2 separate regions of the Homo sapiens genome follow, and region 1 is linked to region 2. A link means that fine-mapping ties the variant in region 2 to the expression of a gene that starts in the linked region. Tissue or cell type: whole blood. Region 2 holds a variant in brackets; the other region holds the start of a gene. All regions are shown on one strand. Distances are between the middles of the regions.

Region 1 (8,626 bases), 81 kb after region 2:
ATTAACTCTTTGAATCCTTGAAATTCCTCTATGAGTTAGATACTATTATTCATCCCATTTCACATATTATAATGACATCAAATAATTATTGAAAACTTACTATTTTCTAGCCAAGGATTTAAATGTTTTATATGCAACAACAATAACCAACTTTACTATTTATAGTTATTTACTATAATTTTTCCTGCCCCCAAGCCCTGCCCCACCATCTACCCTCAAATAGGGGATTGAAGAATTCCTCTATAGGGAAACAAATCATCTCAGTGATAAAGTTAACATGATTTTATATCTGAGGATCTCCCAGGAAAGAGCTGAGTCCACACTCAATTATTCAGTGAGCTACTCACTCAACAAACCCTGCCCTGACTTACACAAAGAGAATCTGACTACCTTTTAGTGCCTCATTATTTGATTGAATAGAAAACCAAGGCTCTTTAGGTGGTTGGGGAGCTGTCTAACATAAGAAACAGAGATGGAAAGAGGCAGAGAGAGCAGAGGAACATTTTGTAATGAATAAGAAGGTATTACATCTGGGAATGATGAAAAGAATGCTATAGAAAACATTCTTGGAAATTAAAAATATAATAGTAAAAAGTTAATACATGGGCTGAAAGAGGAAAGTTGTAGCAAACTGGAAATATAAGAAAATTAGGTAATCAATCCAGGAAGTATTTGATGAATAAAAGTTCCAGAAAAAGAAAACAGTGGTGAAGAATGATTACCAAAGTTCCGCATAACTGAAGGATCTGAATCTCAATTGAAATAGCCCAGGGAGTACCCATAAAATGGGTAAAAAGGAACCATTTCACAGCTCAGTATTTTAAAATTTCAGAATACTAGACGTAAGAAGATTCTAAAAAGTTCAAAATAGGGAAAACAAAACACATAGCAATGTAAAAGTTATTCCACATGCCAAGGATGAGAATTTTGAGTAGCATTTGATTTATTTTTTTCTCTTGTTTGAGACAGGTTCTCACTCTGTCATCCAGGCTGAGAGCAGTGTCTCAGCCATATCTCACTGAAGCCTCGATCTCTCGGACTTAAGTGATCTTCCCACTTCAGCGTCTGGAGTAGCATGTGCATGCCGCCTTGTTCAGCTAACTTTTTCACTTTTTTGTAGAGATGGGATCTTGCTATGTTGCCCAGGCTGGTCTCAAACTCCTAGGCTCAAGTAATCCTCCCGCCTCAGCCTCCCGAAGTGCTAGGATTACAGGCGTGAACCAACACATCTGGCCAGTATTTTATTTGTTAACAGCAATTCTGGTATCTAAAAGACAGTGGAAAAGTACCTTTAGATCTATTATACAAAACCATTTTCAGTATAGAGTTCTATATCCAGTCAAACGATTAACATAGAACCAAGGGATTTTTAAACATACAAAGTCTCAAAAAGTTTACCTCTCGTTCACTCTTAAAGTTCTTAAAGAATTGTTCAGGAAACAAAGGACCGAGGAAACAAAGAAAAGAAAGGCATGAGATATAGAATCAGGGAATCAAATAATGGAGAAAGAAAATGATTCTCAGAAAGTGAAATAAATTCCCTCCTTAATAGTTGTATAGCAGGCCAAAGCAGATCTTCCTAAACTGAAAAAAAGAACAGAGGGCTTCAGAAAAGTTGTTCCCTTGGGGTAAAATAAACAGATTCCTTGATATGTTTGCATATATTGAGAGGAGATTAATATATCTGCTTGGGGATCAAAATAGTAATAGGTACATGGAGAACTAAGAAAAGAAACCAAAATCAAGGCAATAGTCAACTCTAGGGAGAACAAAAAGTTGTACGTAAAAGGAAATATAAGCATAGTCGAATATATTGCTCAATTATTAAGAATATGTACATAGGCAAAATAACATAAACACTCAAATTATTTAACCAAAATTTTGACTACATATAGTGACATGATAGGGTGGGAAATATGCATGCTTACTTAGCTATTTTAATACAGCGAAATGAAGAAATAGAACAATAACATGTTATTTTGAATTATGAAAGAAAATTCCATAAATAACTAAAAGATTTCAAAGTGCTGAAAGTGGTTGCTTCCGGAGAGTGGGAATCAAGAATGGAGTGGGTGGGGTTTGTTATAGTCCCCACACACTTTAGAACCATTTGATGTTTTAAAATATGGCATGTCTTGCTTTAATAAAAATTTAATAGGCTCGCTCCACACTCAATTAGCACAGTGAGCCACAAACTCAACAAACCCTGCCCTAACATACACAAAGAGTATCCTAATCACATTTTGGTACTTCATAACTTATAGACAACTCTAAGTAACAATTTTAAAAGTCCTTCAGCTAAATCTTATTTCAAACATTACCTTCAGGAAAAAAATAAATGACACTGAATCTGATCATTCCTAACTATATACTACTGTTATAAGACAAACAGTGTGCCCTTAAAAATTCTTCAGTCTTTCACAGATTTTATAATATTTCCAGTTAGATTTAAACTTTGAAGATAAGGAAGGGGTCATTCATCATCGATTATGTTATCTCCATCCACGGTACCTCTTCAAACCAAACTGTGTATGGCTGAAGAAAACCAAGGATCTGGTAAGCTACAGACATGAGCAAATACTTTTAGTACTGAAAAAGAATTGAGAAATTAACTCATTACCTTTAACTTTAGAAATGAGCAAAGAAACCCAAAGAGGTTAACTATAATTAGTTCCTAGGTAAGAAGTTCTCTATATTTGCTATTTGCTTTGATGTTTGCATCCTTATCCTATTACATATTAATTTTTAATATATAATATCCTATTTTTTGAAAGCTAACATTTAAAATCTGAATCATGTTAAATAGAAAAGGAAATAAAATTTTATGTACATCTAATAATGCCTGCTCTGGTCAGACATAGGTACTGCCCTGGTGAAAGAATTTCAGGCCTGCAATAGAGAAATTCAGCAAAAGATAAAATACCACTTTCCTTTGCTGTTTGCAAATTGGATCCATAGTCATTTCTTCCCAGTTTTCCATTATTATTTCCTGAAGTAGAATGAGTTACAGCAAATCACCCCCAGATAGGTGATTTGATTATCTTTAGCATGTGGAATCTGTTACTCTCATAATGCTTATCAGCTCTGGCACAAATTGAACACATTAATCACCCAAAAAAAAGAACTCTGCAAGAAGGATAGGAACCAGTGAGTTTCACTGATAATGGGAAAATGGTTCTTTTTTTAAGGAACACATTGCTAATATTAAGCTGAAAGAAAAAGACAATTTTGAGGAAGAGAGTGATAACTATAACAATGGATAAGGAAAATTAATTTAAATGGATATTATGAGAACTGAGGCACTCAATCCTCAGGGCAAATCGTACTTTGGCAATTATTTATATTTGATTCTAATGAAAAGCATACCAGACTCCCTTTGGGACTTTTTTGGGATGTAAAATTTGGAGGAGGGCTGAAAAATCTGAGTTCGAAGATTAGCATCTTATCTTTTCCCAAATGAACATGGATTTGTGCCTTCAAATGGTTAACGCTTATCTCTATGCAGCTGGAAATACAACACAAATGGGAGCCTTTGAGTGTTCAAAGCAAACGTGGAACCAAAGCACTGCAGGAGAAAGGCAGGGCAGGGCAGCGAGGAGGGGACGACGGGGAGCTGCTATCAGTAATTCGCCCTTATCCCTGTGCCCAGCCTGCGAGGCTGAGCGAGACCCATCTATCACTGACGCACAGCCAGTCTGAGGCTTGTCCCTTTGACAACAACGTCCCTTTTGTTACCTTCCTATTATGCCTGGCAGCTTCTTGTCCATGAATTCCTGCATGCACTGGTGTTCCGTGGAATGGTTGAGAAACCTCCGGAAAGATTCAACATATTTCCCGTGGTCAGAAAACAAGCTCCTCATGGAAGATGCCATATTTGGTTTTCTGAGAAAGACAGAGCAGGAAGCAAGGTTTAAGTTCCCCTCCTTCTCTTCCCAGTTCCCTCTTTCTTTCCCCACCCCCACCAGTTTCTATCCAAAAAAAAAAAAAAAAATGCTAAGCTTGTTTTGAATTTAACATGCCACAAAGGCTGGCTTGTAGAGCTCATTACTGAGTCAATATTTGAACGGGACTTTGCACTGATACTTTAACCCCTATACGGTTGTTTTGTAAGAAATAGAAGTATTAAGCAAGGCTGTAAATCCACTGCTAAAACTTTTCAAATTCCTGAGGTTGAAAGGTCATAAAAACAAACTGTATTCAAATCACTTCCTGTTTTGTCAGCAAAGCCACAAGTAAGTTCCAAGTGGGAAAGTGACTGTTCGAAGTGGCAAACACCAGGATAAAGAGGACAGCTACACAGCACTCTCAGAAATCTACAGCAGTGAAATCTTTAACGGAAGACTGTCATCTGCCTCTGTGCTTTCTACGGGATTGTTTTGGGCCTTTACATTCCTCAGCACTTGAATTTTCAACTTATCTGCTGCATTTCTTCAAATGCTGATTTGTTGTAACTCAGAAATTATCTTAAAAGGAAGTCACGAAGGAGGAGCCCAAGAACTCGTAGCTAGAAGGTGTCAGAAGCTGCATTTAGGGGAATGAGAGTGGTAAGAGAAGTCTTGGAGCAAGAATGCAGGACACCAGGGTAAAAGTGCAGTCCATAGAATCCTTCCCTAAGCGCGCTGAACACGACGAGGTCATAGATACTTCGCTTGGCTGGATGAGCCTTTGGAAACCCAGTGGTGTCCCCACCAGAAGAGCCAAAGCTTCAGAGTACCCACACACAGTCTTTTTCCTGGGAAGAGGTCTTTAAGAAGGTCATCCTTTATCTAATATTGGGTTGTTAATAATAGCATCCAACTCATGGAGGAGTGCTGAGGATCAAATGAGTTAACTCATATAAGTCTCTTAGAAATATGTCTGCTTAAACCGTCCCTTCTTCTAATTGAGTTCCCAAGCTGCCCTCTAAGCATTCAAAACACTTCCCAACTCTCTTTTTTTTTTTGAGACAGAGTATCGCTCTGTCGCCCAGCCTGGAGTGCAATGGTGCGATCTCCACTCACTGCAACCTCCGCTTCCTGGACTCAAGTGATTCTCCTGTCTTAGCCTCCCGAATAACTGGGATTACAGGCACCCGCCACCACGCCTGGCTAATTTTTGTACTTTTAGTAGAGACAGGGTTTCACCATGTTGGCCAGGCTGATCTCGAACTCCTGATCTCAAGTGATCCACCCGCCTCGGCCTCCCAAAGTGCTGGGATTACAGGCGTGAGCCACCATTCCCAGCCCCCAACTCCCTTTTATAAGTATGTTTTGTTCTCACTATTCTTAGAGCCAGTGCTTTTACCCCGGGGGAAAGTGTAATATCTGGACAGGCAGATTGCCATGGATGACTCTGCCCTTAATGAACTGTCTGACTTTGGCTGAAACATAAGCTGCAGTTTGCTCATCAGTAAAATGGGAATGAATTTTATCTTATAGGGTTGTACTGAGAATAATATAACTAATGTTTAAAAAGTGCAAGCCAGTCCCTCTGCAAAAAAAATATATATATATAAAATGACAAAAACAGTCGTCACTTTATTCACGGACATTGAAATTTGAGTTTCATATCATTTTCACATGTCATGAAATATTATCCTTCTTTGAATTTACTTTAACCATATAAAAACATAAAAGTTATTGGTAGCTCATGGGCTGCACAAATCAGGTTGGTAGGGTTGGGTTTGGCCACAGGCCTTATTTGGCCAAGCCCTGATTTAGCTCCTGTGCCCTTCACTCATCCTTAGATAAGGTCTTTGCTGGTTCTTTACTCACATCTCTATCCAACCAGCCTTCCCTTTCCTCAGATGGGCTCTGACAAACTTTTGCTTCTATTACCATCTTCCATTTTTCTCTTTAGAGCTCAACCCAAATCATTCATTCATTCATGTGTAACATCTATCTGTTTTTGTTTCACTTTAACCAAAACCAAAAATGGCCAATAATGTATTCATCTATTGAATAAAAGTTTAGTAAGAGTCTCTGTTTGCTATTCTGCTGAGGAATACTCCTGACATGACTTTCTCTTGGAAAGCTGCTGTTAAGGCCTCCCTTAACTGAAACTTGGTCTTCTGAGACCATCACCTCCCTTGCCTGCTGTCAAATATTCTCCAACAGAGCCAGTTCTTCATGTGGATCCCAGTGAGGACTTCCTTTCCGTCTCCACTGTTTCCACCTTACTTGAGATTCTCTTTATTTTTCACTTATTGTGCTTTTTTTTAAAAAAAAATTAAGTTCAAGAGTACATGCACAGATTTGTTACATAGGTAAACATGTTTTATTGGGGCTTGTTTTACAGATTATGTCACCACCCAGGTATTAAGCCTAGTACCCATTAGTTATTTTTCCTGATTCTCTCCCTCTTCCCACACTCCACCTTCAATAGGCCCCAGTGTGTGTTGTTCCCATCTAATGTTTCCATATTTTCTCATTATTTAGCTCCCACTTATAAGTGATAATATGCAGTATTTGGTTTTCTGTTCCTGCATTAGTTTGCTAAGGATAATGGCCTCCAGTTCCATCCTTGTCCCCACAAAAGACATGATCCCATATTTTTTATGGCTGCATAGTATTCCATGATATACATATGTCACATTTTCTTTGTCCAGACTATCACTGATGAGCATTTAGGTTGATTACATGTCTTTGTTATTGCATATAGTGCTGCAATAAACATTTACATGCATGTGTCTTTATAACAGAACAATTTATATTCCTTTGGGTATGTACCCAGTAATGGGATTGCTGGGTTGAATGGGATTTCTGTCTTTTGGTCTTTGAGGAATCGCCACACTGTCTTCCACAATGGTTGAACTAATTTACACTCTGACCAACAGGGTATAAGTGTTTCCTTTTCTCCACAACCTTGCCAGCACCTGTTATTTTTTTACTTTTTCATAATAGCCACTGTGACTGGTGTGAGATGGTATCTCATTGTAGTTTTTATTTGCATTTCTCTAATGATCAGTGATGTTGAGCTTTTTTTTATATGATTGTTGGCTGCATGTATGTCTTCTTTTGAAAAGTGTCTATTCATGTCCTCTGTCCACTTTTTCATGTCTTTTTTTTATTCTTGTAAATTTGTTTAAGTTCCTTATAGATAATGGATACTAGATCTTTGTCAGGTGCATAGTTTGCAAAAATTTTCTCCCATTCTGTAGGTTATTTATTCTGTTCATAGTTTCTTTTGCTGTGGAGAAGATCCTTAGTGTAATTAGATCTCATTTGTCAACTTTTGCTTTTGTTGCAATTACTTTTGGTGTCTTCGTCATGAAATCTTTGTCCATGTGTATGTCCTGCATGGTATTGCCTAGGTTGTCTTCCAGAGTTTCTATAGTTTTGGGTTTTATATTTAAGTCTTTAATCCATCTTGAGTTAATTTTTATATATGGTGTAAAGAAGGGATGCGGTTTCAACCTTCTGCATTTGGCTGGCCAGTTATACTATAGTGTGTGTGGTTTTTTTTTTTATTGGCTTTCCTGCTTTAGGAATCACACAGATCCTAACCAATTTTATTGCCACTGTCAACTTCATGTTTTTTTTTAAGTAAGTTTGGATAAAGACACTCTTTTCTTTCTCTCATAATATTTAGTCTCCCCACTGACCCCCACGTCAAGTACAAGATCCATTCTGTAGCCCCCCCAATAATTATCCAGAATTGTGTCTCATTTACCTCTAGTTTGCATTTATATCCCCTTCAAACTGTGCTGCTTCTCTGGATACATTCCTGTGCTTTTTTGCCTACAGCATCTCCTCATAATAGTCCCTTCTGTAACATGCTGCTTCCTTTCTTACCGCATCCATTGAAAAATTTTCTATTCTTCATATGCTACCACTTTCATATAGCCTTCCATATTTCCCTCAAAATAATCAGCACTCACGCTCGTAATTTCTGAGATTCTTGCAAGCATTCATCCTTGTGTTATTGTTGTTTAATATATTTGCCTTAACTCCCCTGCTTGTCCCCATGTGACTTAGCTCATAAAGACAGGAACTGAGTCACAGCTACTTCCCGTGATGTGTTGCCTGAAGTAGACTTTCAGTTCTTTTTTAAATAATTAAGAATATGCTTGAACATTTACACTATTGAGTTGTTCTCTGCTATCAGATGTCCTCCATCCTTTTCATTATTGAGTAGCTCTATATGTTACCAATAACACCAGAATTCCATTTATTGAGCACTTACTATGTGCCAGGAATTGTACAGATCTTTTCAAATTTAATGTAGGATTTACTCTTTGTGGTACCTCCATCAGCTTCCCCCTATTACAAATGAGAAAACCAAGTTTCTGAGAGATTAAGCTGCCTAGCCAAAAACTGCAGGACTGCTGTTGAATTATAGTCTGTCAAACCCCAGGACTAGCACTCTCACAACAATTTTTTATTCAGCCAAAACCTGCTGCCCTATAATTCTTAGATACTACTCCTATTTCTGGTTGCTTAAACTAAACAGAAGTAATCCAGTTCTTTCTCCATATAACAACCATTAAGAAACTTGAAATCAACTGTCAGGACAACCTTACTCCCCAGGTGTCTCTTTTATAGTTCCTAACTATTTATTCTACAATATAGCATTATATAATTCATTACTCTGGCCCCTCCTTTGGAAAGATTCTAGTTTGTCTGGGTTCCTTTAAAAGATGATGTTT
Region 2 (8,626 bases):
TTTGTTAATTAAGCATAGAGAGGTTAAAGGATTTTAATGGAATACAGAGTTATTGCACCATCTAACTTATTTATTTTTATAAAGGGTTTCTGGAACCACATTGCAAACTTCTTAGGTGTAGGCTACACTTGAGTTGAATGCAGCACCAAAAAGCACTTCCAATCTGTTCTTCCCTTGAAAGATCACTGATGGATGCTGGTGGTATTAGTCTGTTCTCATGCTGCTGATAAAGACATACCTGAGACTGGGTAATTTATAAAGGAAAGAGGTTTAATTGACTCACAGTTCCACATGGCTGGGGAGGCCTCACAATCATAGCTGAAGACAAATGAGGAGCAAAGTCACTTCCTATGTGGTGGCAGGCAAGAGAGCTTGTGTAGGGGAACTCCCCTTTATAAAACCATCAGATCTCATGAGACTTATTCACTATCATGACAATAGCATGAGAAAAACCTGCCCCCATGATTCAATGACCTCCCACCAGGTCCCTCCCAGGACATGTAGGGATTATGGGAGTTACAGTTCAAGATGAGATTTGGGTGAGGACACAGCCAAACTATATTATTGGTCTAGTGAAAAACTGCAGTGCTGGACATTATCAGCCAGATTCTTCAGTGACATTTTTTGGTAATAAAATCCCATTGGCTAAAGAAACTGAAACAGAAGGATTAGAAAGGCAGCTTCTCCATCTTTGGACATGGAAATCAAAGGGGAAGAGGATGGCTAACACTTTTCTAAACTTCTTCCAGGGGATTGATCTAGTTTTATTTCAATTTGGAGAAATAAAGTGTGTCATCAAACTTGCATCCTGAACTTTTACATTTTTGACCATGTTTTTACTGTTAAGGCAGTTATGCATGTGTGCCTATATACACAGATAAGGTCTGGGGAAGACTGTGAAGCTGCAATGGGAAAATACATAACAGTATAAAATATAAGCATAGTGATTTAATCTGTTTGCAGATAATGTCAGCCTTACTTCAAAGCAAGTTCTAGTTGCTATTTAGTCTTCCATTGTCTTGAAGGATCTTTTGGAGGGAAGAATAACAGAATGTTTGACTTAGAAGGAACTTGGAAATTGTACAGCACTTTCATATGATGTAGAAGTATCCTAAAGCCAGTGCAGAAGTGAGACCTGATAATGGTCACATGGAGTAAACAGCACCAGTGAGACTGGAATCGGATGTTTCTGTGCCACTTCGTTCTGATCAAAAGCTACCTATAGTAACTACTCAAAGATAGCATTCTTTGCTTTCTTCCTAAGCATCAGGCATGCTTTATTTCAAGCTGTTTCCTTTGCAAAATTATTACTTTGCAAATATTAGCAGCTATGTTGGAAAACAACACAATTTCAGTGTTCGCTATGATATGAAAGGAGAAGGAAAGCTTTGCAAATATTTTTCTAAATATAAGTAATCCTAACTATGGGGCTAATCATTTTCCTGTCACCTTCATCCTCAATCTTAGTCTAAAAGTATATGCTGTTGAAAAACTTGTTCTGACAAGTACTTTTTTTTTTTTTTTTTTTTTTTGGATAGCAACACTTTTCTTTGCATCTCTTCAACTTTGGGCATCTGCAGGTCCTGCTTTGGCTTTGTTCCTAATTACTATATTATTAGCTGATTTTCATCTATTCTTGGCCATTTAGCCTACGTGGACTTGTTTTTTCTGCCCTACTAATTAGGAGTTGAGCAGTGGGGTAGCCAAAACAAGACTGCCCAGATTCAAGAGATAACCTCATTCAGTATCAATTTTCTCATTTCAACAAACTAGGGCTTCTTACATTTTGATGCATTCGCTTTCAATCCTAATCCGCTATTTAATAAACCTCCCAAATTAACAACCCTGGGTCCATGTGGCTTATCCAAGAGAGCCCTGTGAGCTCCTGTTAATTCAATCTCAGTGGCAGAGTCTGGGCTTGATCTGCTTCCTGAGAAGCTGTATCTAGTTTTAAGCTTCTGTGTTTGGCAGCTTCACTTGGAGAGAATTTACTAATAACTCAGAGTGTAGTTTCCTCTGGGTGCCTCTGAGTGTGTGTAGGTTTTACATACCACAAGAGAATGAAACTATTGATAAAAGTTGAGCTTTACTTCACTAAATAGGAAACTCACGCTGGATGGAAAAGAAACTTAGACTCTTTGAATTGTTCCCATTAAATCTGAAAAGTCCTAATTAATTCTCTTCAGTGGTCTGCATTTCCAACCATTTATGGATTACAGTAGAACAAGGAAAACAGGGCCTATGAAGAACCCCCACATGGTTGAATGCTCATCTGTTGCTGTCTTGAAACTCTAAAAGCTGTAATCTTTGAAGGTATGTTTTGAATGTGCAACCTTGAAGCATGTGGTTGAACAAAGGATGTACATGGAAAAAAGGTAAATGCTTTCCCCTGTAATGACACTGTTGTCCAGCTTTTTGAACAAGGCTCTCCCTTTTTCATCACTGCCCCGAGTAAGAATGAGGAATATATCAGAGTCCCTACTTCAGCATGGCCATTTGTACCCACATATGGCCCTGTAACCTTCTGTCCTGGCTTGCATCCTACTCACACATCACCTTAATGACTCAGGTTCTCTTTTTCTCTCCTTCACTAGCAGTTGTTTAAAACTATTTATTTAGCACTCGCTCTATGCCAAACACCATACCCAGCACTTCACCCACATCGCTCATGGAATCACCATAGTGGCTCTCTGGGATCAGTGTTCTCATTATTCCCATTTTATAGGTGAGGAAATTGGAATTTAGGTTAATAACTTGTCCTGAGTCACATGGTAAATGTTCGAATGAGGATCTGTTAGGGTTTGAATCCTGACAGATTAAAGTCAGAGCCAACGCCCTAGAAACATGAATACAGGAAAAACAACATTTTAAAAAATGCCCAACTCAAGAATATGATCTGAATATTACACCCTAATTAATCCACTCCATGATTTCATCAGTGGTCTTTTAACATTTTATTGATTTATTTTTGCTTTTTTAAAAAAGTGTCTTCAATATAGTAGTATATTAGATTGTGATCTACTAAAATCCATCTTAACGAGGCATCAATGAGGGAATGACAGCTGTGATAATAGTAATAATAATGACCATCTACTTTCTCTCATTTCATTTTCGTTATTTAAAAAAGGAGTAGCTGAGTAACCTGTTTTTCTGCTTAAGGTCCTTAGGTCAAAATTGCACTTTCATTCACTTTTTATTATATTTATTTCCTGATCTCTCTTTCTGTCTCTCTTTCTCAATCTGAGACTAGGTTTAGAAAAATGTGTGTGGTACAAGTGGCAAGTTCAAAATCTGTAGGTTTCAATTTCTAGAACCTGATTCCTTAAAAGGACATGTGGCCTCCATACCAAACCTGCAAATATTTCCAAAAACTCCTCTTTGTATAATTCACCATTTATGTCCAAGAACAATCCAAAAGCCTTGCTGCAAGACACTCTCTCCCTTGACTGCCACGTGGGTCACTGCAAATCCTGATCTTAGATGATATTTCAGTCTGAAAAGAGGGAGAGTGGTTCACTTTCATGTCATTCCTCATCTTCTTCTATGGCTACTAAGTCAAAATCACATTGATACACATTTTATAATGTTTTCCCCAAAATCCATGTGTTAAAGCTCTAACTCACAGTGTCTTACTGTTAGAATGTGACTGCATTTGGATATAGGGCCTTTAAAGAGGTTATTAAGTTAAAATGACAGCATTAGGATGTGCCTTATTCCAATAAGACTGGTGTTTTTAGAAGAAGAGGAGATTCAGCACACAGACACACCAGGGATGTGCGTGCACAGAGGGACGACCATGTGAAAAGACAGCAAGAGGACAGCCACCTGGATGCCAAGGAGAGAGGCCTCAGAGGAAACCTACCCTGCTGCCATCTTGGTCTTGAACTTGCAGGCTCCAGAACTGTTAGAAAACAAATTTCTTGTTTTTTTGTTTGTTTGTTTGTTTGTTTTGAGATGGAGTCTCACTCTGTCACCCAGGCTGGAGTGCAGTGATG[C/T]GATCTCAGCTCACTGCAACCTCTGCCCCCTGTGTTCAAGTGATTCTCCTGCCTCAGCCTCTCAAATAGCTGGGATTACAGGCGCCTGCCACCATGCCTGGCTAATTTTTGTATTTTTAGTAGAGATGCGGTTTCATCATCTTGGCCAGACTGGTCTTGAACTCCTAACCTTGTGATCCACTCACCTTGGCCTCCCAAACTGCTGGGATTACAGGCATGAGCCACCACACCCGGCCACATTTCTGTTCTTAAACCACCCTGCCTGTGGTATTATGTTACAGCAGGCTTAGCTGACTAATACAGGATTCTTCTCATTTGCAGGCAAACACATTCTTAAACTGCTCACCTTGTTCCCTGTCCCTTCCAGCCATTGTCTACTATTTTGAACCCTTCTTCACGGTCAACTTCCTAAATCATTTATGTAGTCATCCTTGACTTTTTCCATCACTCATACTTAACATCCAGTTTATTAGTAAATTACACTACCTTTAGCTTTAAAATATTTTCAGATTTTGATTTTTTCTCACCATTTGACTACTACCATCTGGTGCAAGCTGCTATTATCTCTTACCTGGATGACAACGATAGTCCCCAATGGCTCTCTCTGCTTCTACCTGGTCCACCTTGCAGCAGCTTCTGATGAAAACCTACTAATTACCTTGCAACTTAGAGGGAAAGACTGTCTTTGAAAAAAGATTTCTAAAGCCAGACATGGTCTACTCTACCACCCCCTTTCACCACGCTGACCTCACCTACTACCCCTTTTTACTTCATGCATTCTACTCAAGCCACACTGGGTGTTCATTGTTGTTTCTTATCAATGCTATTCATGAAGCCACTTCAGGTCTCTTGTATGTACTGCCTCTTCTGCCTGGAATGTACTCTTCCCAGATTTTTATATATATATATACTTTAAGTTCTAGGGTAAACATGCACAACGTGCAGGTTTGTTACATATGTATACATGTGCCATGTTGGTTTGCTGCACCCATCAACTCGTCATTTACATTAGGTATTTCTCCCAATGCTATCCCTCTCCCATCCCCCACCCGCCGACAGGCCCCAGTGTGTGATGTTCCCCGCCTTGTGTCCAAGTGTTCTCATTGTTCAGTTTCCACCTAGGAGTGAGAAAATGTGGTGTTTGGTTTTCTGTCCTTGCGATAGTTTGCTCAGAATGATAGTTTCCAGCTTCATCCATGTCTCTGCAAAGGACATGAGCGCATCCTTTTTTATGGCTGCATAGTATTCCATGGTGTACATGTGCCACATTTTCTTAATCCAGTCTATCATTGATGAACATTTGAGTTGGTTCCAAGTCTTTGCTATTGTCTTCACAGATACTTTCATGGGGCATGCTCTCTCTCATTTTCTATAGGTCTGTGCTCCGACACCTCATCATGAGAGAGGACTTCCCTAGCCAACTTCTCTGACCTCCCTAGGTAAGACAACAACCATATCCACTCAGCACTCCTTTAAGTCCCTTTAAGTCTGGCTTAATGCTGCATTATTCTTTCCAGCTGACATATCACATATTTATTTGTATGTCTATTGTCTTTCTTCCCTCTACAACAGAAGTAACTTGAGACACTGTCAATTGACTGCTCAGTCCCAGCATCTGTAGCAGTGCCTGGAATGTAGTAGGTCTCAATAATTCTTTCCTGAAAAATAGCTCCACTTTATTATTTCCCCTTTATTCTCAAATTTATTCCAAACTGGTTTTTCCTCTTGTCTTCTGAATTTTCTCTTATCAGGGTCTTCAATGACCTCTGTTCTGCTAAACCCTCAACTAACTTTACCTCTCAGATGGTTTTGACAGAATAAAAAATGACCCTCCTTTTGAATCACTCTCTCTTCCTAACATCTGTGATTTTTCTTCTGTGCCGCTGGCCAATCCTCACTTTCTCCTCCTTTATGCAAACCTGAAGCTGTGCAGTTCTTCAGAGATCTCACCAGAGTCCTCCTCTCTTCTCACACTTCAGTTTCTCTCCAGGTGATCTCATCGCCTCCCATGGCTTTAAATACCATGGGATATTAAAGTCAGGAAATCTATTTTCTCACTCAGCATTATCTTCTGAGCTTTAGGCGGATGCTGTCATTAGGAATCTAGGTGTGATGTGTGGAAACTAAGTGGCAAACCTATTTGTCCTTGAGTGTTACTTCCCTCAGAAAACATTTGATTGCTTAACTTGGAAAGCTGGGAGTCTCTTCCCTTTCCCTTACTTCTCAGATTCAATTCACTAGCAAGTCCTGTCCATTCCACTGTTGAACCATACCTTCTGTGTCCGCTGACTTCTCTTCATCTCCTTTATCACAGCCAAACCACCATCATTCCCTACCTGAACCACTGCAACACCCATCTAAATGGTGTTTCTGCTTCTGCTTTTGTCTTCTTTTAATCTGTTCTCTATGCAGTCACCAGTATAATCATATGATCATGCCACTTCCTTGCTTAAAATACTTCAAGTGACCCGCATTGCAATTAGGTTTTTAAGTCCATCACGATCTGGCCTCTAGCTATTTCTTTTGCATGACGTCTCATATCTCCTGCTCCCACTCATCATCCTACACATGCTTGAACTCATAAATAGCTCTTATTTATTGAGCACCTATTATGTACATTGTGGTAGTTATTTAACCTATTTACTGTATCATTTTCACATTATGCAAAACAAGCATTAATGTCCCTAAATTTTAAATGAGAAAGTTGAATTCCAAGGAAATTAATCATGCAACTGAAATCATATTTGTTAAATGGATGAATAAATGAATGAATGAATTTGACCAATACCACACAGTTGGATGTTATAGATATTATTCACCACACAGGTTTATTGGGATGATACACAGGCCAATTTTTCAAAGCATAAAGTACCAAAATATAAATTTTTAAATCATATTACAGTTTGAAGTTTGTGTTAACCTGTATTAAAAAGGCACTCCTGCTGGGTGGGAAATAGACAACTAAAAGGCTGAGTTCTCAACATTAAAGAGCTTATTTTCTCACTAGGCGGGCAGGGCTTACATACATTGAACTCATAAGGAACAATAAAACATGGCATTTAAAAATCCCTGGGCGAACAACTGGAAAAAATCCTGTTTTGCATGCTGTTGCAGAAGGACACAAATAAAGAAAGGGGGCCCCAACCGATCAACACAGTCAACTAAGTTAGCCAATGGAGTGATGCATTGTAGACAGTCTCTGACATACAGTGTAAAAGCCCCTAGAACTTAGCCCTGAGCACATAACCAACAAGAGTGTGTCAAATCTGAGCTTACCAAATAGTACCTAACAAATGAGGTCTCCGCTGACAATATGTGCACCCCACTCCTACAACTGCCCACTCCATTAACCTCCATACCCTTTAACCTGATGTATTCTCTTCCTTCTCACCACCTGACACCATCTAATTATCTGCTTGTCATCTGCTTGTTGTGTCTCTGGTCTGTAACAGGGGCTAGCACTTGGCAGTTGCTGGAGAAATAATGTGTTACCTGCATGAATCATGAAGCACTAGATTGAACTGAATCCAGTCCTTAACTGAGGGACTCAGAGATTAGGATGGTCACTGTAAAAATTATGGATTCTACTGTTACCCCTTCTTGACTGCAAAATACTGCCTAATTTTCTGCTGTCAGTGTTCAGGATAGGTTTCCCTTCCTTCTTAGCACATCTTGTAATAGGGAAAGCTGCAGCCCCATCCACCCATTGTCCCCAGAGAGTATGACCAGAGGCACAGGCCAGGCCCTCTTTAAAGACCCTCTGAGAGCTTCCCTGGGTAACTGTTTGGTGTCTCAGTGGCCTCACTTCCTTTGCTGCTGGCTCCAACCCAGAAGATCACCAGCTCATCTCCAAATGTGCTATTTATGACGATTCATCCAGATACAGCCTTCCAGAACCCAAGGCCCCACACCGGCTCCATTCAGCTGAGACAATGTGCCCAAAAGCTACTGCAGGTTTCACTAAATTATGGAGCAAATGTCAGACTTCCCTCGCATTATCAGACACACATTTTACATGGCCTCTTTATTGGGTTTTTATATCTTGAGGGGGTCTTAATAGGATGAAAGGGAGGCTTGCTAGGTGCAAATGAGTGCCGTTCGACTATTTAAAGGCACATTTAATTAAACTGGATTCATTGCCTGCATGGGGCAAGTTAAATGAAAACTAAATAGATGGAGTATGATTACATATTATTAAGAAGAGAGACAGCTCTGGAGACCAAATTCTTTTAACACAACATTAAGCTGAGCTCATTTCATATGCACAGTTTAGCACCGGCCTGTAAGGAGAACGTGTTTTGAGAAAATCAGCAGAATGGTTATGAGCTCTAAACAGCTTTTAATAAAATGCAATGTTTCAGGGAAGGAGCAGCTTCTAAGCTTCACTTAAATATGCTAATTAAAGAAAATGAAGTTTCCCACTGATTCCAGGTTCCCTTTGTGTTCCCTCTATTTTTTATGTTCATCGCACCCAGGCTACTTTCTACCTTATTTTGTAAACTCCCAGAAATGCTCCAGATTCCTTATTAAAAAGATATCTGTGCTCACTGTGAGTTGGGAAGAGAAGAAAATAAACCCAAGTCTGCCAAATTGGTGACTTTATTCAAATTGGCTCTCTGGGTCTGGGTGTC

What was found. PIP is the estimated chance that this variant, and not a neighbour inherited with it, causes the effect.
Region 1: HNMT starts here. The variant in region 2 is fine-mapped to the expression of HNMT in whole blood (TOPMed, PIP 0.94).

Annotation. Positions count from the first base shown.
Region 1 is chr2:137,959,738-137,968,363 of GRCh38, reverse strand. HNMT (histamine N-methyltransferase) reads right to left here and starts at 3,891. Exons shown (of 6, transcript NM_006895.3): 1 at 3,736-3,891. The coding sequence starts at 3,872.
Region 2 is chr2:138,040,371-138,048,996 of GRCh38, reverse strand. LOC107985948 (a long non-coding RNA gene) reads left to right here and starts at 5,259. Exons shown (of 3, transcript XR_001739719.2): 1 at 5,259-5,434. It overlaps LOC105373636 (a long non-coding RNA gene), which reads left to right. Exons shown (of 3, transcript XR_923367.2): 3 at 2,187-3,517. The variant C/T (reference allele first, on the strand shown) is at 3,996.